Linked DNA regions of Homo sapiens: all the other regions are linked to region 3. The links come from fine-mapping of genetic effects on gene expression. A gene starts in region 3. Each other region holds a variant in brackets. All regions are shown on one strand. Distances are between the middles of the regions. Region 1 has its middle 22 kb from the start of DENND2B. Region 2 has its middle 36 kb from the start of DENND2B. Region 3 holds the start of DENND2B (DENN domain containing 2B).

Evidence for each region. PIP is the estimated chance that this variant, and not a neighbour inherited with it, causes the effect. A credible set is the group of variants that fine-mapping cannot tell apart.
Region 1: its variant is the best candidate, but not a certain one, in a credible set for the expression of DENND2B in lymphoblastoid cells (GEUVADIS, PIP 0.76).
Region 2: its variant is the best candidate, but not a certain one, in a credible set for the expression of DENND2B in whole blood (TOPMed, PIP 0.54).

What each region holds. Positions count from the first base shown.
Region 1 is chr11:8,828,165-8,836,348 of GRCh38, reverse strand. It overlaps a transcript of DENND2B not described here. Among named protein-coding and RNA genes, the nearest start is that of DENND2B, 22 kb to the right of the region's middle. RefSeq lists enhancers at 2,907-3,707, 3,439-3,758, 3,708-4,509, 7,290-7,789. The variant G/T (reference allele first, on the strand shown) is at 3,223.
Region 2 is chr11:8,842,740-8,850,923 of GRCh38, reverse strand. It overlaps a transcript of DENND2B not described here and the pseudogene RNA5SP330. Among named protein-coding and RNA genes, the nearest start is that of DENND2B, 36 kb to the right of the region's middle. The variant GTC/C (reference allele first, on the strand shown) is at 3,950.
Region 3 is chr11:8,807,373-8,815,556 of GRCh38, reverse strand. It overlaps DENND2B (DENN domain containing 2B), which reads left to right and starts at 4,883. Exons shown (of 20, transcript NM_213618.2): 1 at 4,883-5,040. DENND2B-AS1 (DENND2B antisense RNA 1) reads right to left here. Exons shown (of 5, transcript NR_120590.1): 5 at 5,281-5,480.

The DNA of each region.
Region 1 (8,184 bases), 21 kb before region 3:
GCTGTGCCCAACCCTGGGAGGCTCTCAGGCTGCTGAAACTTGCTAGAGAAAGTTGTGGAGCTAAGTAGAATATTTCTGGGCAGAAGAGCTCCATAATTGATTCTGTATACTTTCAAGTAGGACTTCTCTGTTATTTTGCAATTTTTTTTTTTTTTTTGTATTTTTAGTAGAGACGGGGTTTCACTGTGTTAGCCAGGCTGGTCTCCAAATTCTGACCTCCTGATCCACCAACCTCGGCCTCCCAAAGTGCTGGGATTACAGGCATGAGTCACCATCCCCGGCCCTATATTCACCATGTTTTTATGTATTCCATAAGCCCTAACTCCACTGTGACCTACATCCCCGATGAGGATGCCTCCTACTTTCCTGAGACTGTTAGAGCTAGGTGACATAGAACTCTGGGGTAGTTTATTTTCTTTAGATAGATCGGTACTCAGCCAGCCAGCTCAGGAGAACAGGCAGTGAGCATTCCCCGTAGGCTCTGTAGACGTGTTCCTTGCGAATGCCAACGATGTCTGGTTGAAGTAATAGTTTGATCTGGGGCTGGATAAGAGTTGTGAGCCTGTGTCTGGCATTTGGTATTTTCCCCCATTCTTTGATCTTAAGTTGTCCTAGGCAGGTGATCCAACTGGTATCTGTCACATAATATCCAGTGCGTCCTCCCTGGCACTCCGATTCTCAGTAGTCATGAACCAGCTGGCTTCTATATCTCTCACCAATCACAGGTAATTTAGGTCTCCCTCAGGTAAGTGTTCTTCAGATCCTACTCACATCCTCTTTAATCCCCATCTTTCCTTCTCTTTCTGTCCTTATGATTTTGCTTAATTGCCTCCCAAAAAACCCTCCTTATCCCCTTTCCTTTTTGCCTGTGGGATAAAAGCTAGCTTTGATCATAGCTGGTAAAGTGTGAAACCAAGAATACTTCTGAAAGGACAGTCAGACATTTGGGAATGAAAGTAGACGGTTTGAAGTATCAGTGCCATCACTATTGTTCTTGAGAATGCTTTTAAAGATTCCCCCCAGATATCCATCTTTTAATTAACCTGCCCTTCTTCCAGGACCACAATTTGAAACACGTAAAAATTATTATTTATTTGTTTGTTTGGAGACAGAGTCTTGCTGTGTTGCCCAGGCTAGAGTGTGGTGGCGCGATCTCAGCTCACTGCAGCCTCCACCCTCTGGGCTCAAGCAATTCTCCCACTTCAGCCTCCCGAGTAGCTGGGACCACAGGCACACACCGCCATGCCCGGCTAATTTTTGTATTTTTGTAGAGATAGGTTTTGCCATGTTGCCCAGGCTGGTCTTGAATTCCTGGGCTCAATTGATCCGCCCACCTTGGCCTCCCAAAGTGATGAGATTACAGGTGTGAGCCACCGTGCCTGGCCAAAAATGATATAATTTTATTCCTCTTACATTTTGTTTTATTGCTAGTATTTACAGAGGTATTGTTTTGTGTCTTTATTATGTATAAACAGTATTTCAGCCATGTTGTTCATTAATGAGCTTGTCTGCGCATCTGGCTACCATGTCTGGTGTTGTTTCTGTGGAAAACTGTCTTCAACCTATAAAGGGCGACTGCCTGAAAAAGGAGCTTTTAGTGAAAACACAGTCTGTTCACCCTCTGGCCCCTGCTGGTGAAGTTGCTCTAGAAGAGACTGACTCTGTTCCCATTGCATGAAGAGGAAGAAAAGTGCTTCCAAGGGCTTCCGGGAGCAGGTCAGGAAAGCTAGGTCTGTTTTCTTCAGTCTCGGCTAGAGGAGCTGGAATGTGCCATGCCTAACTTTGCCTAAGCTCTTTTCTTTTTCGCACTGTGTGTCACACTGGGAAAAACTTGAGCTTAAAACCCAATGAAATTCTCCCACTTTGAAAATCATGATGTAATTATGACAGGATCGCATTCTTTAAACTTACTGTTTAGTGGGGTTAGTGGAGTTATCTCCTCTGATTTTTGACAAGGAAATAATACATTCTTGTTGCAATGCTGTATCAGGTCTTAGGATGGAAAGCGTCTAATTTAAAGCTACAGACCTTTCCTGTAGGACGCATATGCTGCTAATCTATGAAAACTGAAGATGTCCCAGTGCACTGTGTGTAAACTGCAGCATCTCCTTGTGGAATGAACAGTTCAGGAAAATAGAATGACTTTCCAAACTGTACTAGGTTCCAGGTGACTGAAAATTTCCTGTGAGGGTGGGAAAGCTTATCCAGATGTTCTTGCTTGGGGATCAGCATGTGTCATCCCGTTCCAAAGAAGTACAGTCACAGCTGATTTTATCTTTGTCCTTCTTTCTGTGGTGCCCAGGGATGCTCTTTTTGAGTTCATCTTTGGTCTTGTCTCTCTGAAAAAAGCAGCATGCATTTTGATCTAGGTTTAAACAGTTAAAATCTGTGGCCACAGGGTAAGGTGAAACTAATGGCTCTAAGTAGCCAACTTTTTACCTTTGCTTCACTGGCACCAGGCTGTGAGTAACTGAACTAACCAGCTGCAGACCCTTATTATGCAATTTTGAGGTAAGGATGGGTGAAATCCTAGGGGCTGGGAGACAGACATGTTTGGCTACCAGAGAGATGACATCAGTTCATTTACTGGTGCTGTGGAGGAAGGGGAGATTCCAGGTGCTTAGCCTTCTTCCTGCATGTGGGGGTGTCCAGAGCCACCCTTAATCCTATTCGCAGCCAAGGTCTTTGCTTGGGAAAAACCATATTTAACTCTGTGCCTCCTGTTATCCCCATAGGGACATGAAGTTGGAAGGGTTCTTGTATCTTTGGCTTCCCGAACAAAGCTTTGAAGAACAGACGTGTGTCTATATGTGTCTCTGTGTGTATTTTGTATTAATGCTAGCAACTGATTAAGGTTTTCAGAGTCCAGGTCGTATATGAGAAGGGGAAGTGTCATCTGGATTTTATGGAATCTGTATTAGGAATTGCCCTTTCCTTGCAAAGGAAACAGTTAATGATGTAATCCACTTTTAAATTAAAATTATTTTATTATTTTATTTTGATATCCTTCACGTGGACACTTAGTATATAACAGGAAGGCATCTTTAATAACTCTTTCTGTGTTCTGCTCCTTCTCCTGTGCTTATCCTAGAACAGAGCCTTACAGGGTCATAATTTGGAGGAAGCACAGGCTTCTGGGAGCTGTGGTACTAACAGTAGGACTAAAAAAAGCCTTATGACCTCTGAAGCATGACTGAGAGAATCAAGCTGGGAGGCATTAGA[G/T]CCCATCTGCTCACCAGCTTTGCTGGCCTGTCAGATGTTGGGCTTCCCCTCCGGTTTGCCCTCCTCCCTCAAGATGTGTTAGAAAATGAAGCCTGCTTCCTGGAAAGCAGGTGACGCCAAAGCCTATGCTAAGAGGATCCGACCTCACATCTGCGTGCCTGCCTTGGGCTCCCCTGTGACTGGATTGCTTCGGGTCTCCCTAAGACCCTTGCTGACATTCAAGTGCAGCCGCTGCTTACTGGAAGCCGTCTGGGGCCAGCCCAGGCTTGTTCTGTCAGGGCCTCTTCCCACCACTGTGTCCTCGCCTCCTGTGGGCTTTCACATACAAGGGCCTCACCATCCCTGAATTGCCAGAATCCTTGTTGTGAGAACCCAGTGCCTCCCAGTCAGGGCCCAGGAAGCTGTGGGTAAGCTCTTGGTTTCCTTCTCGGCCAGACACTTCTGGGAAACTATCTGCATTCCTTTCTGCCCAACTCTGCCTCTGGGCTCTGGGGCTGTGTGGGGTGTGGCTGCCTCATGCCTCTGTGAGGAGGAATGCTAGTTCCACTGAGACCAGCCATGGAAGGTAACCAGGAGTTTGAAGGTGGAATTCCCTTTTCTTGCAGTCCTAGAGCCAGGAGCTAGCTTTTCATGGATTGTGATGAGGTGTTGGTTCTTTTTTTTTTTTTTTTTTTTGGAGACAGAGTCTCGCTCTGTTGCCAGGCTGGAGTGCAATGGCACAATCTCGGCCCACAGCAACCTCCGCCTCCCCGGTCCAAGCAATTCTCCTGCCTCAACCTCCCGAGTAGCTGGGACTACAAGTGTGCACCACCATGCCCAGCTAATTTTTGTATTTTGTACTAGAGACGGGGTTTCACCGTGTTGGCCAGGATGGTCTTGATCTCTTGACCTTGTGATCCGCCCACCTCGGCTTCCAATAGTGCTGGGATTACAGGCGTGAGCCACTGTGCCTGGCCGAGGTGTTGGTTCTTTTAAAAATTTTCCAACTTGCTTTCCTGTCTCGCTGTCACTCTGGAAGGCGGGGGTGAGGGGTAGGAGGAGAGACAGTCGGCTCAGTCGGCTGTGATCCATCTTTGGCACTGGAGATGGGTGTGGCAGATACCTTTTGTGAGGAAGGAGCTTAGAGGCAGATGAGAGAATCTGCCTCTTGGTCTTGGTATAACTGGACGTCTCCCCAGTCTGGCTCTGTTGACACTCTGAATGGTTTGTGAAGGCATCCTCTGGCCCCTGAAGGCATTACCATCCTTACCAGGTTTAAAATCTTTCAGAGTGCACCCAGCATCATCAGCTCCTGCAAGCAGAAAGGGCCCAAGGGAGCATGAACACACACTGGGTAGAAGTTAAGCCTGGTTTTTTAAAATTTAAGTTTAAATTTTTAATTATTTAGGGAGTGAATCCTACAGAATTTAATTTTTCCATCTTTTTTTTATGGAGACAGGGTCTTGCTGTGTTGCTCGGGCTGCTCTTGAACTCCTGGGCTCAAACAGTCCTCTTGCCTCAGCCTCCCAACGTGCTGGGATTACGGGAGCAAGCCACCCCACTGTGTGCAGCCCAGAAGTTGAGCCTGAGAGGTAGGCTTATTGCCCTGTGTCTACCCAAGGGTGTGTGTGTGTGTCTGGAAGTGGAGATTAGGAGTGAATGCATCTTATAAACAGGAGAAGATCTGGAGAGACGATGGTGGGGGCTGGCTGTGGGGAGCACAAAAGCTGGGACTTTTGCAGAGGTGTATTTGCTCCCGAGTGGCCAGAAGCCAGGAGTAGTGGGGAAGGTGGGTTTAGGCATGCTAGGTTATGCTTGCATTGCTGAGTACCTTGGGTGTGATGGCCAGGAATGCTTTCCTCTGGGAATTGGGCCGATCTCCTGACAATCCTCCCCATTTTACACCCATTACATACTTATGTGATTCTTACCTATCAGGGAGGTCTTGGGGTCATGTGTTGTGGGGCAGAGGCTCTGAGTCTAAGAATGGGCTGGTCAGCCAGGGGCTCCACCTCCCAGTTTGTTGGCTTCCTCAAGGATGCCATCCTTCTTTGCAGCTGCCAATCTTCACTGGTGTCTGTGCCCTGGCAGGGTATAGAGCCCTTCTCATGGGTGCTCTGCCTCTTTGGGGGCTTGAGAACAGATGGGGCTTAATTTGAAGCAGATTTCCCTCCAGGGCCCAGGTATGAAATATATATTAGAAGATGACTACTGGTCTTGGCTTTTCTTTCTTATGTGTCTCTTTCTTCCTTTTATCTTCCCACTACTGTCAGGCACTGTGAGCAGCTGTTGCTATCACACGGGCGGATCAGAACATGAAGAATGGAGCTAAATAGAGCTGTCTGCATGCTGTTCTGATGGGCTCAGGCTCAGCCTCAGAGAATAGGTGGATTGGAGCCTGTGATGGGGGCTCTTTCCCCCACCAGAGTGGGTGAAAGCAGGGAGGAACAGGCGGGAAGATACTTTAGGAGTTGGGAGGGTATTAATTCCACCTCTTCTCTCCTTCCTCTGTACCCCAACATTCCCTGTGAGTTGTCAAGGGCTGGAGAGATAACAAAGATCTTTCTTTCCACCATCAGGCAGTAAGGCAATGCAGCCCTCGCTGAATTTTCAGCTCCACTGACATTGTGATGCAAATATTAAATAAAGCTTATTTTCTGACCTGAGGGAATTTATAAGCTATTGGGAGAGACAGTGTTTGTTAAACAAGTAGAGAATATCCAAGATCTTAACTGTGTTGGTTTACGAACCATGGATACATTTATAGTTCAGAACAAGAAAGTTGTATCTTAAAACCACAGAAAACTTTCCTTGGAGGAGGCAGGATTTTTCTGGTCTTTAAAGTTGGGTCAACTTTATAAGGAAAGGAGAGATGTTCACTCCAGTGTCACGGCGATGATCTACCTTGGAGGGGTAGGTGTGGCAGAGCAGAGCCAGGGACCTGAGCTCTGGAAGTCCTGCCATTACATAGGTGATGTGAAGTGATGCAGTGAAGGTGGAGTTTTGTGGAAATCTCTCCTGTAGATCGATGAAAATAGGATAATTTTGGAGAGGCCAGAGAAAGGCAGTGAGGAGGCCTGCTAAAGGACCTGGCAGGTCAGCAACAGGAGAGAGGAAGGGGGCGAGTCCTAGAGAATATTCCAGAGTAGATGAGGCAGGACTGACATGAAGGATGAACTTGAGGGGCAAGACGGAAGACACCAACGTTTCTGACCTGTGAGAGCTAACCAATACTGACACGTTCTGTTTGTGAAGTACTTGGACTTTTCAAAGCACTTTTTCATTCAGCAGAGCATTGTCTGGGCTCTTAGAGTTCATCTAGTCTGGCTCTGTTTTATAGAAGGGGAGATTGGGGACGAAAGGGGAAGCGACTGTTCCCAGCACACACAGCTATTTAGTGGTGGGGCGGGACCCGTGATATAGGCCTCTCCCTCCTAAGACAATTTTAAGACAACAGCAGCATGGAAGAGAGTGTGGGCTTCGCAGGAAGTCCGTCTGGCTGGATAACATTAGGTGATAAACCAATCTCTGAGAGCTGAGAGAAACTTACTCAGAAGCATTCAGACCATATCAATGGTTCAGCTCCTCAGAATTGTTTTTGAGAACCACAGAGAAGGAAGATGGACTCCTTGGGTCCTTCTAGTTCTCAGATTCATAGGAGTGCACAAAAATAATGTATATGAATAGTACTGAATGGGGCTCCCCGGAGACTGGCGGGTCTCCAGTGTGGTGCCTTTCTAAGGGAATTTTCAAGATAACTTGACTCCACATGATTTTTGCCTTGTGCTGACCACGGAAGCTGACTGCAAAGACACCACTGCTGAATTGCGCTGTGGCCAGTCATCACCACAGCCAGGGGCTCAGCATTGCAGTGACGGCTCTGATGTGTCACCCACTCCTCTCCCACCTCCTCTTACAACATATGCTGCACATGCACATGCACACACATACCACACACACAAACACCACACACACCACACATACTACACACCACACACACACCACACATATGCACACACACCACATGCACAAAAGCACACCACATACCCACACCACACACACAAACACACCATACACACCACACCACACACACCACACACAAACACACCATACACACACACGCACAACACACTCCACACATACTACACACACACCACACACATGCACACCACACACACACCCACACACACACCCCACACACACACACTTTCTCCTCCCTTCCCTGCCTCCCTCCTTCCTTTCATCTTACTTTTTGTCCTCCACAGTTTCTTGTCTCATCCCTGTCTTCCACCTCTGCTCCCCGCTCTTGTCTGGTCTAATTAACTTCCTCTGTTGGAGCAGCTTCCCCTCTTGGGTAAACTCAGACATGACCGCAGCAAAGCAGCGTGGAATCTTCTGTTTGGTCAGTGTTCCCTGAAATGGTGGTGGCACTCAGCCATCCGGGTCAGAAGCTGGAGTCCTTCTGGAGCTTTGCTCACCTCTGCAGCTGGTCACCTCCGAGTCCTTGTTTCCTATTAAAAGAGTGCTCGGTCCGCCCTGCTTGTCCCCATTCTCACCACCCCACATGGCAGGAGAGGAAGCAGAGAGGGATCATGGTGGAAGAAAGGAACGCAGAGATGAGGGTCCCCTTTGGTGTCCTTGAAAGCAGTGACCCCTCACAGAGTGGGTTCTTGTGGTCTGCGTCCTGACCCCCAGCTTCCCCGCAGATACAGCTGCATTGGAGCCCCTGAAGACAAACCAGAGAAGTGCTGCATCCTGGGGGGCAGGAGGCTTTGCTTTGCCCAGGGCTGGGCTCCTGAATGAATTTTGGTGCAGCCTTAACGGCCGAGTTGTGCTGTTGAAGGTGCACTGCTCTGTGTCCAGGCACTTCTGGAAGAGGAAGTCAAGGTCATGAGGCTGAATTAGGCTTTGTGTGCTCCTTCTAGGTTCTCAGCGTCTGTCTGGTCCTTTACTTGCTTTAGATCTCTGCCCCAGCCACTGTAG
Region 2 (8,184 bases), 35 kb before region 3:
CCTGGCTTGTTTCATTTAACATAGTGTCCTCAGGTTCATCCATGTTGTAGGAAGTGACAAGATTTCCTTCTTTTTTTATAGCTGAATAGTATTCCATTGTGTGTATATAAACCACATTTTCTTTTTTTATTTATCTGTTGATAGACACTCAGGTTGACTCCATATCTTGGCTATTATGAATAATGCTGCAATGAACATGGAAGTGCAGATAGCTCTTTGACATACTGATTTCATATCCTTTGGATATATGCTCAGTAGTGAGATTGCTGGATCATATGATAGTTCTATTTTTAATTTGTTGAGAAATCTCCATGCTGTTTTCCAGAATGGCTGTACCACTTTATATTCCCGTCAACCTCCACATCCTCTCCAACACTTATTATCTTTTGTCGTTTTGGTGGTAGCCATTCTAATAGGTGTGAGGTGTTATCTCGGTGTAGTTTTAATTTGCATTTCCCTGATGATTAGTGATGTTGAACATTTTTTCATATACCTGTTGGCCATTTGTATATCTTCTTCTGAAAAACGTCTGTTCAGGTCCTTTGCCCATTTTTAAATAAGTTGTTTTCTTACTATTGTGTTGATTCCTTATATATTTTGGGTATTAACCCCTTATCAGATCAAGCAGTTTTATATTTTATTTAATGCATTTTACCAACTTTTAAAATATTAAGAACAACTCATATATACTACATATGTTTTTCACAGTTTGTCTTTTAACTTTGTTTTCCACATACAAAAATTTTTAGTAATTTAATGTGAAATTTATCAGTTTTTGTGTGTGTGTGTGTGACTGGGTATCCCTCTGTCCTCCAAGCCAGAGTGAGGTGGCACGATCACAGCTCACTGCAGCCTTGACCTCCTTGGCTCAAGTGATCCTCCCACCTCAGCCTCCTGAGTAGCTGGGATTATGGGCATGTACCACCACACCTGGCTAATTTTTGTATTTTTTCTAGAGACGGGGTTTCACCTTGTTGCCCAGGCTGGTCTTGAACTCCTGGGCTCAAGTGATCCACCTGCCTTGGCCTCCCAAAGTGTTGGAATTACAGGCATGAACCACAGCACCCAGCCTTATTGGTCTTTTCTTTTCTTTTTTTTTTTGAGATGGAGACTCCCTCTGTCACCCAGGCTGGAGTACAGTGGGGCGATCTCAGCTCACTGCAACCTCTGCCTCTTGGATTCAAGCAATTCTCCTGCCTCAGCCGCCTGAGTAGCTGGGATTACAGGTGCCTGCCACCACACCTGGCTAATTTTTGTATCTTTAGTAGTGATGGAGTTTCACCATGTGGCCAGACTGGTTTCAAACTCCTGACCTCAAGTGATCTGCCCACCTTGGCCTCCCAAAGTGCTGGGATTACAGATATGAGCCACCATGCCTGGCCTTATCAGTCTCTTCAGTCTTTCTGTCTGTTTTTTTTTTTTTTTTTTTTTTTGAGACAGTCTAGCTCTGTCGCCCAGGCTGGAATGCAATGGTGTGATCTCGGCTCATGGCAACCTCCACCTCCCAGGTTCAGGTGATTCTCATGCCTCAGCCTCCTGAGTAGCTGGGATTACAGCCATCTGCCACCACACCTGGCAAATTTTTGTGTTTTTAGTAGAGACGGGGTTTCACCACGTTGGTCAGGCTGGTGTTGAACTCCTTACCTCAGGCTATCCACCCACCTTGGCCTCCCAAAGTGCTGGGATTACAGGTGTGAGCCACCGCGCCCGGCCTGTAGTATTCTCTTCACCTTTGTATCCCTAGTGCTTAGCAGTGACTGTCTTATTTTAAGTGTTCAGTGAATATTTGCAGAATGGTGCAACCCTTGGGGGTCCATGGGTAGAATTTGAAGGGTCTGCAACTTGGATAGGAAAAAAAAAATTACATCATTTTCATCCACCCCGATTGAAATTTAGTATTTCTTTTTTATTATGAATATAGGCAATAAAACAGCAGTAATGGCAGTACCTGTGATTTAGCCACCCATAGAAATCATGGATATTTCCCTGGATAAACCCTGGGTTAAGAATCTGCTTTACTGTTTTTTTTTTCTTGAGGCCATTTTATTTTTGTGTCAAATACCTAAGCAATACCTGGTACTCAGTAGATACCCAATAAATATTAATTTAAAAAACTTCTTATTTCAAAATATGCACAAAAGTCAGGAGAACTGATTCAGTATCTTGGCTATTATGAATAATGATAGCCATTGTTCCCATCTGTATAATGAACTCCATATATTCTTAATCTGCTTCAAATATTATTAACATTTTGCCAATTTTATCTTTCTCCTCCATTCCTGGACATTATGTTATTTACCCAATAATATTTCGGGAAGCATATTTGATAAGAACTTTAAAAATCTATAACCACTCTCTCACATTTAACCAAACTAACAATAATTCCTTAATATCATCTGTTATTCAGGTCATATTTAAATGTCCTCAGTTGTCTCAATGTTGTCTGGTATTTAAATGCTGGGCATGGTGGCACGTGCCTGCAGTCCTATTTTATTAATAATGTGTTTTTGACAATTGCTCTTTCCCTATTTAACATTTTATTATTATTTTTAATGGGAAATTATTGATTTGGGTTCTTTGGTCTTATTTGTAAAACTTAAAACATTTAAGTCTCATTTACAGTTGTTCTTGGACATAATTTAAAGTGAAGTGTGTGATGGGTAAATTTCTTCAGGTATGATCAAAGCTCTAAGAGATATTTCTTTTTCACTTGCTCAAAGAGTCTACTCACCTTGTTACACTGGAGGTAAAAATACTTTCTCTGAGAGTTTTATATGCATCTCTGGACTTTAATTGTATCCTTTGCAAAATTGGAAGAAATTTGGATTTGGGTCTTCTCAGCCTGCTGAGTTTTTTCTTTTTCTTATGCTTAAAAATATGAGAATGTCATAGTGGTAGTCTCTGGTTGATGATTTTGTACATCTTTTGTACTCAGAGCAAATCCTTCTGTTGTTTTTAGATAGCATTTTTTTCTATTAAACTTTATAGATTTGAGGCCATTTGTTCAAAGACTTTGATCATTTGCGGGATAGTTCTCTGAGCTGCATTCCTTCTTGTGCTTGTCATCTTGTGCATGCTTTGAATCTTTTATTGAAAAATATATTTTTGTATTTTATATCTTTTTCTGATTAGTTTTTTCTGTAGCATCACTTCTGTTTTTATTGCATTCATCAGTTCATTTAGTATGGACCTTACGTTTCTGTTTCTTTTGCAGCCAGCACTTGCGTAGTCTGTTTCATTGCCTTGAGAATCAATATCAGCCATTCTGTAAATTTGATGACAAATATTGAGAGCTTGCTGTGAGGAAGGCATTCCATTACAGGGATTAGCTTTTCTTTTCTTTTCTATCGTTAAGCTTTGTTTTCTTTGACTGCTTATACCCTTTTCCTATATATTCATTCTTCTCTGTTTACTGATCTTTCTTTCATAGTTTCAAACTATTTTATTTGTATTGTATTTACTGAGATTTGTGAGAAATTCTTTTAAATATACTATTGAGATCCCACTTTATGTTCGTTATAAAAGGTAAAGGAATTGAGGTATTTTGAATTTTGTAATGGCGAGTGTAATTAATGATCACCTAATTATAATCCCCCCATTTTAGGAAGTGACTTTGTATAAGGGAAACGAAATTCCAAATTCCCATTTCATTCTTGTTAAGATTAGCTTGAAGGGAGAGCCTCCCATGATGGGAGAATGCTCTCCACTAGAACGTGGTTTGTACCATGTGGGCGTGTCTCTGGAGAGCTGGCTCATTGGTGCTACAGCCTCAGGTAGAGCAGCAGCTGAATGACTGACTCTGGAGAAGTTTCACTGAGTGGTTAGCAAGTGTGAAGCCCTAAGCCAAAGACTATGAAAGACCCAAGAATTCAGAATCCACATGTATATAATGAACCTTTAATTTTGTGAAAGAGATAGACATTTGGATGAGTGGCAGGAGACAGTGTGT[GTC/C]CATTGGAACTGTAAGCAAGTAGGTGTCCCGCACAGTAAAGCATTGAGGGGTCACCCTGTGGGACAGGAACATGTCTAAGTCACAAGCCTTATCTTCAGAGAGGCATCAAACACCTACAGCAAAGAGCTAAGGATTAATATCAAAATACAAATGGATCATGGAGCGGTTTAGAAATATTGCAGGCCGCCTCTGGTATAAACAGAGAATGATGAGGGTTTAGAGGTAGAAGAACTGACTATAAGCAGAAGTGTTTGAGGAGGCTGCATGGAGAACAAGGGGCATCATCTTGGCCCTTGGCAGGTTGGCAGGATTTGACTTGGTGAAGAGAACGAGAAAGGGGACTTTAACTGGGAGGACTACTCTGGGGCACAGAGGAGGGAAGCTGTTTTATGAAACCAGGTTCATTTGTTCCCATCTGTAGGTTCTGCCCTGTCCGCAAGCAGCCGCGTCTTGGCTCACTCCTCTTCTCCCCTCCTCCCCATTGTGATGACCATGAGCCTTCTCTTGGAGTGTCTGCCCAGTGGGCCCTTCAGCCTGGGCGCTGCTTTGGTTCGGATGATACTGTCCTCCACTTGTCTTCTTCCAAGGATAGATAGCGCCCTGACCTCTAGGGCCAGCAGCCTGTTGGGGGATCTTCCTTCCAATGTCACCAGCCTTACCAGCTTCTTGAGTATTTATTCCTTCATACCACACTCAGCCTTCTTCTGGCTCCTTGCTACTTGTTCTCTTAGCATAGACACTGTCCCCTCTCCCTTTCCCCAGACATAGGCTTCCAGGTTGCAATTCCATGAGTGTTCATAACAAGCCTCAGCAGTACACTTTAGGTCTTACTGTCCTTATGTCCTCTGGCACGTCCCTGTCTGTGTTGCTCTGTGGACCATGGTTTCCCATCTAGAAACCATTACTTGCAGTGGGGAATGATGCACATGAGGACCTTCGAAGGGCTTGTAGGAGCTGAGGCTGTGGGAATAAAGTGTGGGCCCTGATTCTGAAGGGACTTGATTCAGTCCTGAAGAGAAACCGTGTATTTTTGGTTTCTAGACACTCTGTAATTTATTTAATCAGACCTTTATTGAGCACATTTAGGCTGTCTTCAGTCTCTTTCTGTTAAAATATAACAGTAATTATCCACGAATAAACATAATTTAATGTTAATTTTGATAATGCCACTGTTTTGGTGGGAGAGGCAGATAAGCTAGTAGTCTTCAGACAGGGTATATTTTCTAGATCCTTGACTTTCTATGTCCCCTTTCCAAAGGCTGATCTGTCTGAGAATTCAGTTGCACTCAAGGTGTTTCCTTTCTCAATCACTCTTCTCCCACTTTACAAAAGGAAGACATAGTCATTATTAATCTGGAGTCTTGCTGTTTGTGTGCCTGATGTGTGAAAGCCTCCAGATTAACAAGCAAAGGAACAATTAGGACTATTATTAGGAAAGTGAATGACTGTGAGTAGCAAATCCTTTTCTAAGTCAGATGGTTTCCAATTCTTGCTTTCAACAAAATTGAAGGCATTGTCAGTTGGTAGATAATTAAAAATAATTTTTGATTATAGGTCATGACATGATTTTGACTTGTGATTCTAAAGATACTGATATTGCTATAGCAAAATTTATTTTACTTCTCCCATTCAAGTACTAACGGGGCCTGACCCTGCTTAGCTTTTGAGATCAGACGAGATGGCACATTCAGGGTAGTATGGCTGTAGACTGTCACTTCTGTTTAGTTATTTATGTGAACAAGGTTTCTTGGTGCTTACCACTATAAAAATGAAAAATTAATGCATTTTGAATAAAATTTTACTTTTTATGTTTAATAATAGTACCAATTTCTAAACCAATTATGTTTTGATCATTTGCATATTCAAACAATAAAGATAATGAAAACCCAATCCAGAAGAAGAATTTTTTTTTTAACATTTACAAGTTATAGCCTGGATGTGGTGGCTCACACCTGTAATCTGAACACTTTGGAAAGCCGAGGCAGGAGGATCACTTGAGGCCAGTAATTCGAAACCAGCCTGGGCAACAAAGCAAGACTCTGTTCCTACAAAAATAAAAAATAGAAAGAATTAGCTGAGCAATGTGGTGGGCATCTGTAGTTCTAGCTGCTTGGGAGGCTGAAGCAGGAGGATTGCTTGAGCTCAGGAGTTTGAGGCTGCAGTGAGCTATGATTATGCCACTGCACTCCAGCTTGGGTGATACAGCAAGACCCTGTCTCTAAAAAAAAATAAAATAAATAGAATAAAAAATTGAGGTTATAATCATAGCAGAATTTAAAAATTTATGCATTTATATGTATATATGTATAATACTAATATATATATTGCAGAGAAGTATAGGTTGATCAGTAAAAGATTTTGAAGCATAAATATTAGGATAAAATTCTGAAAACGAAATAAAAGGAAGTAAGAGTTAACAAAAAGGCATAGTATAAAATGTATGTTCTTTTAAATAGATGATCCACTATGGCATTTAGAGTCCATTGGATCATTTAGATTCATTTAAGAGAGTAATGTTGTATTTAATTTAAAAATGTAAATATTTATTTATTTTTAATAAAACATTTTTGTCGAGACAGAGTTCTGCTCTGTCACCCAGGCTGGAATACAGTGGTGCAATCATGGCTCACTGCAGCCTCGATCTCCCGGGCTCAAGCCATCCTCCCACCTAGCCTCCCAAGTAGCTGGGACTGTAGGCATGCACCACCACACTTGGCTAACTTTTCGATTTTTTTGTGGAGCTGAGGTTTCACTATGTTGCCTAGGCTGGTCTTGAACTCCTGAGCTCAAGCCATTCTCCCACCTCAGCCTCCTCAAGTGCTGGGATTACAGGCATGCACCACTGTGCCAGGCCTGTAAATATTTATAAAATGCCAATATTTAGAATATGGCAGAAAGTACGTCTTTACTACTGGTTGTGATGCAAAAATTTAAATATTAAATGTAAGGAGGGTAATATAACATTCTTTTAGGGCACATAAGATAAACAGACATTTACAATGGAGTATGATACAGATGTTTGACCAGAGGAAAGCAAAGAATGTTGAGGAGAAGATGCAAGGGAAGCCCATGGCCAGAGAAAGCAACCAAAGGAGGTGCCGTGGGAGCGGCATCTTGAGGGACTGTTGGAGTTGGCTTAGCAAACAGAGGAGGGAAGCCATTCTGGGAAGAGGGAGTGGTGTGTGCAAAGGGTCTGGAGGTAGAGAATATCAGGATCAACCTTGGGGGAAAGCACAGGGGTGGCATGAGCAGGATGGTGATTTACGGCAGCCAGACAGCGTATTATTTGTGACAGGATTTGTGTATTCCGTATGAGAGGAGGGCTTGGAAAGGAGAGGCGGTGGTGGGGCTGGAGATCTGTGGAGGTAGCTGTTGCCAAGGGCCAGGCATGAGCAAGTGAGGCCAAGAATGACCCCTGAAGGGGTGCTTCCTTCCCAGTGACTGTTTTCCATCTTAGTAATCTTCTGGACATTTTTACAAATGCAGAGATTCTTATTTACATTCTGCTAGAGGAAGAAATTGAGGCCCACTGAGAGTCTGTTCCTCTTGCAGGTTTTGTACTTAGTAGCAATGGGCTGATTGGGCTTAGTGCTGCAGCCTAAGGTTCCACATTGGCCACATGCTCAATTAGGGCCTTTAGCTTGTTATTAAGACGAGTGACTCCGGCCGGGCACGGTGGCTCGCGCCTGTAATCCCTGCACTTTGGGAGGCCGAGGTGGGCGAATCACCTGAGGTCAGGAGTTCGAGACCAACATGGTGAAACCCCGTCTCTACAAAAAATACAAAAATTAGCCAGGCGTGGTGGCACTTGCCTGTAATCCCAGCCCCTCAGGAGGCTGAGGCAGGAGAATTGCTTGAACCCGGGAGGCGGATGTTGCAGTGAGCCGAGATCGCGCCACTGCACTCCAGCCTGGGTGACAGAGTGAGACTGCATTTCAAAAAAAAAAGAGAGAAAAGAAGAGCAACTCTAATTTTGGAGCCAAAATTTGAGATCCTTAGGCCAGTACAGGATTTTTGTCCTGATTTTTGAATTTGCTTACATGAGAAGCCTTTACAGAGTCCTAAACATTAAATCAAACTGAATGTATGCATTTACGAAATCACCCTTACTGTAAAGAATTTAACTGTATAAACTCTTTGGTCTCAGGAAAGGTAGCACGTGTGACACTTTTCTGGTACAGGGAATTACAGGGAATTCTTTGTCTTTCATGATGTCTCCATCATGAAATAAG
Region 3 (8,184 bases):
AACAGCATGAGCCATAGAGGGAGGGAGAGGAAAATGCAGGCAGTGTTCAAAGAACCAGGCAGTGCACTGTGGTTGTGCCTGTAATCGGGTGGTTGGTAGCAGGGGAGGTGTGGGCAAGAGATGAAGCCAGAGGATTTCAGATTTGGGTGGGAGCGTAGGCCAGAAGAGGGAACGTTGGATGTAGTCACACTGCTGTTGGTGTTACTTAGACCTTCATTTTTCCACCAGACTGTAGTGTTCAAAATTCTTTTTAGTAAGAGAACCCTTTTTTTCTGAACTTTTTACAACCATCTCCAAATTATGAAACATAAGACTTTTTTTTTTAGTAAAAATGTATTTTTTTACAAGCACAGTGTCTTGCACCATGGAGGGGAGAGGAGGTGTTTTGTCCTTGGAGCTGCTGGCCTGAGAGAACCTTGTCATCGTGGGAGCTGGGCCATTCCTACACAGTGGTCTGGCAATGACCCGGTGGTGGTGGAGGCCTGTGAGTGGGCACTGGTAATGGGAGCAGCTGTAAAACCCTGGAGGGCAGCCCCAGGAGAGTGACCTTACCAGGAAAGTTCTGGGAAACAAACCACAGGGAGGCTTTACAGGAATTTTTGGTTGTGCCCACAGGCAAGGCACATGAGGAAAAGAAATGTAATTATAGTTTGTAAGTCGATGAAAAGAGGCAATGAGTGACATGAAATAGCTGCTCTAAGTTTCTTCTTCCTGTCGGACAGGAAGAAATGGGGTTTTATGCATTTCATTCAGCAGATATTTATTGAGTGCCAGCTGTGAGCTGGGCCCTGCACAAAGTGCAGGGAATATTGGTGGTTAGCAAAATAGTCAAGGTTCGTATCCTAAGGAACTCTTCTGAGGGAAGACTGAGATTAAGCAGATAACTGTATAAATGCATAATTACACAGCATGGTGAGTGCTCTGAAGGATAAGTGTGGGGAGCCTCATTTAGATTGGAGGATTGTGAAAGTCAAGAGACAGGAGAGTCAAGGTGAGGCAAGGTGAGTAAGAGCTATCCAGGCAAAGACTGCTTGGTAGGGGAGTGTCCCAGCAACGGGAAACAACCTGGAAAAAATATGACACCTCAGGGGAACTAAAAGCAGTTGTATGTGGCTGATGCACAGACAGGGAAGGGCAGGAAGTGTGCTGAAAGAAGGCAGGAGGAGAATCATGCTGGGCCTTGTAGGTCCTGGTAAGAAGTTAGATTTTATCTTAAGTGTAGTGGGAAGTCAATGAAGTGTGTTAAGCAGGAAATGACCTGATCTGGTGTTAAAAAAAAAAAAAAAAAAGGTGATTCAGACAGCTCTAATGACTTTGTGAGGGGAGAGTGGAAGCTGGGGCAATTAGGAGGTTTTTGCAATAATTAAGGTGAGAGATGGGTAGCATCAGAGGTGGAGAAAAGTGGACAGATAAAAGATATATTTTGGAAGTAGAATTGTTTGCAGTTGGGAAATGGGTTGGATGTGGGCAGAAATAAGAAGGGAGAGTTGAGGATGTCTCCCAGGTTTCTGGCACATGTATGCTTGCAGGCCTCTCAGTAGACAGCAGAGAGCTTATATAAGGTTGTCAAATCCTTATCCTTCAGAAGGGTCAGGTAGGATTGGTCTAAATCCAGCCTTGCAGAGGCAGTGGTGGGATTCAGCTGTCCCTGACTCTGCCCAGTTCAAGGAGTGTGTACACAGTAGCATTACCCAAGCAGGGATTCCAGTTCTCTCAGTAATGGGGCCCTTCCTTTGTCCCTTCCCCCAGGACAAGGCCCTAAGGAACCTCCATAACTCCAGCATGCCACTAGGGGGAGCATGGCCCGCATTCTGGGTCTGGTTTGGAGGGCTTCTTAAGTTTGGATTACTTCAGGAACTGACTTGTATCAGTTCTAGTACTCAGTCCTGACCCCTGGCCCCTCATACTGCTTAAAAGAATGCCTGGCATATGGTAGGTGCTCAACAAGTGTTAACTGATGTTACTACTGTATTATTAATATTATCTTATTATAGAAAGGGGTGGGATCACCCCTTCTTTCTCAGGATGGAGACTGGGCAAGTGGAATGTGCATTTTGAGGATCAGGAGGAGAGCAGAGGGATGCCTTTTGGACAAGGAAGAGGCGGAAATTTAGTGATTTGATGATACTGCATTTGCCCTTCTGTCTTGTCTTTCTTTGTCTTTCTTTGTAGACTTGGGATTCTTCAGCTGGGGCTTGGGTGGGGTTGGGGATTTATAGTGGGTGATTAGGTTCACTCCCTTTCAAGCTCTGATTGCTTCACTAAAGCAGTAGTGCCCCCCATTTAGGATTTGTGCCATTCTGTCATTTCCTGTTGGATTTTATAACACTTTCCTACCTTAACTTCTGGTATATATTTACCTTTTAAACTCAAGTCAATCAGAATCTTGTTTTGAGAATGTTGTGATATGCTGGAAATTAATGAAAAAAACCCACTAGATTCTGCATAGGATGTTGCATTAAAGATTCTATCAGGCTGGGTGTGGTAGTACACACCTATAATCCCAGCTACTCAGGAGTCTGAGGTGGGAGGATTGCTTGAGCTCAGGAGTTCAAGACCAGCCTGGGCAACATAATAAGACCTCGTGTCAATAAATAAATAAATAAATAACATCAGGACCTTTTTTTTGGGAGCACTGTTTTTGGGAGCAGCATTGGAAAATATCCTCCTTAAGCCTCAGTGTCCTCATCCTGGGGAGGGTATTAACTGTCCCAGTGTTTTTTGTTTGTTTTTGGTGAGGAGTTGTCAAGAGGAGTAAAGTTCTTAGTTCAGTTCCTGACTTGAGAGTGCTTTCACGGACAGCATCTCTTCCGATGCTCAGTCCCAGCCCTGTCAGTAGGCTCTGTAGGTGGAAAGGGGGAAGTCATGGGACTTGCCCAATGGCACATGGCCCGTTAGTGGTGGAGTCAGGCACTGCCAAGGTCTTCTGACCCCTGGTGCTGTTGCAACCACTGTGCTTAATGTACTCAAGAGACTTGAAAGGCTTGGGGATTGTTTCTAGATTTTATTTCCTGGTTCCATGACCTGGGGCAAGTAATTTTACTTCTGTTGTAGAATTAAAAAAAAAAAATCTGTTAAATTAGTATAATAATGCCAATCCTAACTTTCAGACCTGTCATGTTGAACAGACGAGCCAAGATTTTGAGAGTCGTTTAGAAAAGTGCAAGGTCACATATAGCTGTAGGGTAGGGCTTTTTCTCCGAGCTGTGCATCAGGACGTTTTACATCTTAGAGATGCTGTCTTAAGGTCTTTAGGCTGAAAGGATGGTAGTCAGCCTATCTCGCCACAACTTACAAGGATTCTCCACCTTCCCTTGGGAGCCCAGCGTTATCTCATAACCAGTTATCAAAAAGTTGACAGTTTTTGAAATCAGGTGGCAATATACTTTAGTTGAAAGTGTGCTGGACTAGGGCGAACTTGGCTGATCTCTTAGTTCTTTGACTGCCTAACTGTATAAGTGCAGATCAAATGTTTAATCTCTCTGAGTCTCAGTTTTTCCATCTATAAAATGGTCATAAGGCCAGTATGCTGGCTCACGCCTGTAATCCCAGCACTTTGAGAGGCTGAGGCAGGAGGATTGCGTGAAGCCAGGAGTTCAAAACCAGCCTGGGCAACATAGTGAGACCCTGTCTCTATAAAAATAAAAATTAAAAAAGTAGCCAGGCGTGGTGGTGCATGCCTGTAGTCCCAGCTACTTCAGAGGCTGAGGCAGGAGGGTTGTTTGAGCCCAGGAGTTTGATGATGTAGTGAGCTATGATTGCACCAATGCATTCCAGCTTGGGCAATGGAGCAAGATCCTGTCTCTAAAAGAAATTTAAGAAGAATAATAAATAAACTTGAAAAAATGGTCATAAAAATATCTGTGCAGTGTATTTCAAAAGGTTATGAGGATCAAACAAAATGATACATGTAAAAAGAATGTTACAAAGCAGAAATGTATGCTGGGTAGGGGGGAGAGGAAGGGACAGGATGGGGATGGGGATGGGACTAAACTTAGGGGGTCTGCCGTGTCCCAGGGACTGTGCTCATTTTCTGACAGGAGCAATATTATTACCGACTGTGACAGCAGCTCCCACTAAGCCTGCACCTTAGCTGCAGATCCTTAGCAGGGCAGAGAGACAAGGCTGTATTTGTATCAGGTTTGTCGTCTGGGTTGTGACTCTCGACTTGCCCAGGATTCTTCCTGGTCCTGACCGAGTTGTCTTTGCTCTCCATTTCAGGAAGATGAGAGACTGCTTAGGCGCCACCACTAGTACCATGAGTCCCTGCACTGGTTAAAGCCATCGCCACAACCTGGACAGGCAGCAAGGTAAGCAGAGAGGCCAGTCCAGGCGAGCTCCTGGGATGTGAGTGCATTTCCGCCCCAACTGCTGCCCGGAAAAATCCCAAGTGCACAAACAAGTCAAGGCAGCGCATCAGGGTCCCTCCTACCCGAGCTCCAGGACCCAGAGGAAGCTGGGTCCCCTTCAAGCGCTTCAGCTAGCTCCCTCCCCCCTGGCAGGGATTCTTCCAAGTTATAAAAAATGAGACACTGGAGGGGAAGAAAACAAGTCCACTCACTGTCTTCTCCCTTCTCCCCTCTGAGCTGTTCAAGCAAGTTCCCAGGAGCAGTTCAGAGCCCCTGTTGGACTGGAAGGGAGGTAGGAGGAGTGGAATGCATGCAAAAACCGAGCTGATCAAAAGACAGTGCTGTTTCATGGAAGCCTCCCAGAACTGAGAGAGAGAGAGAGAGAGAGAGAGAGAGAGAGACAGTGAGAAAGAAAGAAAAAGAGAGCGCCCTTGTGCACGCGCTAGGCCAAGAGCGCGCCGCTGTGCGCGCGCCCGCCTAGCGAGGACAGGGTCTCCATGACAACCGGCCTGGCCGGCTAGCAGTGCTCTGCTCACTTGGCTGCGAGGAGCGCCACGAAAGGTCAGAGGAAGGAGCTGTGGGAAGCTCGCAGCAGGTATCGGAGCTTAAGCCAGTGGATTTGGGGGCCCTGGGCTCCCTAGCCGGCTGCGGTGTGAGAATGGAGTGGGCAGGAAAGCAGCGGGACTTTCAGGTAAGGGCAGCTCCGGGCTGGGATCATTTGGCCTCCTTTCCTGGCCCTTCTCTCCGGCTGTTTTCTGGGAGTCAGGCGAGTGTCTGTAGTCTCTGCTCGGGGTTTGGGGCTCAGGAATGATGTCATGCTCCAACAGTTGGATTCTATTAGCTTAAGGAGGAGGGAAACAGCCAATTTTCTTGACTTTGCAAATCTAGCTGATCTCACTCTTGCTGAATCTGAGGTGTTTAGACTTCACTCTAAAAAGCATCATTTTACTTTTATTTAGCACAAAGGCACAGGATATTTTTACAGGAAGAATCTTTTATATGGAAAAATCTGAGTTAACATCACTCCCGTGGTGTTTGTAGTTCTTACAGGGAAACTCCAGTGCCTTTTGAGCCGCTTGTTCGTCCTAGTGAACACTGTCTGTTTTGTCTCTTGGTGCTGCTATGTCTGACCTGTAATGGAAAAAAAAAAAAAAAAAAGGCTAATTAAGCTCAGCCAGGAGCCTGTGGTGAGTTCCAAGTCCCTCTAGAGCATTTATTAGGACAGAGGGACTGTCACAGGGATGCCTGAGCTGGGGTTTTGCACTCTCTCTCTTCCAGGCAGCTTGGTAAGAATCAAGCTGTCCTCCCACATCAAAAGGTCGATCACAGACTTTCCTAAGAGGTGGAGGAGGGGGCTGGCTTGGGGTTGGGGGGCCTGCAAACAGGTTTCTCATCCAGATGTCCCAGAGTGAGCTCTCAGCAGCAGCTGCTAAGAGCTGGGGAACATGAGGCACTGTAGTTGTGCCGGGTGGATTCCTTTGGTTACATTTTGACCAAATCTCAGGGCACGCAGTGTCCACGCTGTGCACTCCTACACTGATTGTCCTAAGTTTTGGTAAAACTTGTTCTGACCTAGAGGAGTGGTACATGGTGAGCTGTGTGGCCTTGGAAAGGAGACCCTCCCAGAAAGGCAGTTTTATAGGTGATAGGGTAGTGGGGTTGTCAGTAATATTATGAGGAGGATGAATGCAGCAAACACTTCCTGCAACGGAGACCCATCAGGGGTTGTGCTTCCACTTGAGCCATGTTATGTCTTAAATTCACTTCTTGGCCTCAGGGAACTTTGCAAATGCCTTTGGTTTCTCTGTGGGATGAGGGAACAGCTGCTGTCCTGGTTCTTCAGTTTTTCTTCTTGAACTTTCTGAACAGAATGTCTTTTGTATTCTGGCAAACAATGAGGGGGCATTCTGATTAACTTCGGATCAGCTTGCCAATGCAAGCACTGGCCATGTCCCCAGTTCCGGCTCCCTAAAATGAGTACATGTATACATCGTGGTTGTGGCCTGAGGGTCCACAAGGGTGAACTCCATGGCCCTGGACCTCAGACGGTCCACTTCTGAAGTTATTCCTCTTGCTACATACACTCCAGGGATCCTTTGCTTAGTTGAAACCTACATTTTGCTGGAGGGATGTGGCATAACACTGAGCCAGTGGCCCCTTCAGTTGGCAGTGTAAATCCAGAACCTCAGCCTTCTTTTCTACTTGTGTGTGTAGTTGGAGCTCTTCAATTTTACCATCCCCACATCTGTGAAGAGGGCTAGCAGAGACCCAGTTTCAGGAGCTGCTGCTCCTTCTGTTGGTATAGCAGAAAGAATAATGGATTTGGGTTGCTAGACTTGAGTCGACGGCTAGATTCTGTTCCCATAGGGCGGCCACGGGCAAGTATCTTAACTAATAGGAGCTTCAGATTCTTACCTGTGAGATGGAGGTAATAAGAACAACTTCACAGGACTGTTGGGAGGAGCCAGTGGGATAACTTCCATGAAAGTAGTTTGAAACAAGTCACGTCCTATCTAACGAACCGTGTTGTGAATTGAAGCTTGAGGAATGACCCAACTCTCTCTGGAAAGTCACTTTGCCTCTCTGTTCTGGTTCTCTCATTTTATAAAGTGCCTTCTTCCTTTCTGCATTTATAAGTAAACATGAGAAAAATCTGAAAAGACTTCTTCAGGATGTTTAAGGAAACAAATGTTGCTTTCCTTGGGTTGGGTCGTTTCATAAGAGTGATGTTTGCCATAAAACTGGAGCCTCATAGACGATCCTGCAGGGAGGAAGCTTTCCTTGGTCACCTGACTCATGTGTTTATATATAGTATAGAGGAGAGGTATTCCAAAAGACCCGTCGCTTTTCCTGTGTCCCACAGCTGCCTGTAGAGTTGTGGCACCATAAACTTTAGCAGCTGGAAAAGAGGCCAGGCCTGGTTCCCTCATCCTGCTGGGTCCTGCTGGGCACACTCTGCAGTGGGCAAAGGGGTCTTTCTCCTTCATTCTGGGTTTAGAAGGCAGGGTTCTAACTGGGAGAAAGTGTTATTGCTCCGAAAGGCTTCTTGGGGGCTGGGCAGGTCTTTCAGGAACTCATAAGGCCACAGCTTATGGGGAAAGAAAAAGAAACAAGGAAGTGGGAATTCCAAGGGCAGAGATTCTTGATATGCCATGGGACTGTGCCAAGGAATGGAAGAGCAGGGGAAGGGAGACTCCAGGCAAGGAGAGTCCCAGGTCTGTCCTCATTGAGTCGAAAGGGCGTATGGCATACTAGAGCGCGTCACCCACAGCCCCAGCTTTACTGTAGGATGGGGAAGACCTGCCAGCCATATCCCGGAGTGGTGTCTGGGAAGAAGCCCTTGAGCAGACCCATAGTAGGCAGATTAAAAAAATGAAACAAAACAAGCAGCTCCCCTTCTAGTTGAGTCATGTCACAACAGCCTCTAAGGCCTGAAGGAGAAGCTGCCCACAGCTTAGATTGGGGCTGCAGCTGTTCCCCGACTCCCATCAGTCCGGCTTCCCAGAGCTGAGTCACAAATTGGATCTGTCTATGTTCCTTAAGGATTAAAAAGTAACATTCCTGTTCTCACTCCCTCTTTCCTCCTTCTACTCCGCTTCCTGTACCTTCTCCCCTTGGGCTCTCTCTCTCTCAAATTAGATATCAGTCACCCCGGGAAGATGAAACTTTGAAATACACTGGAGAACAGGCCAAGGACACCCTTGGTTCTGCTGGTTCAGCCTCTTTCCCTGGAATGAAGGGCGGGGTGTACAGATTCAGGAGGGCAATCCAAGTATCATGGCCCCACTGGTAGCCTAGACCTAAGAGAGGCTGTGCCCCACTCCCCACCGCATCT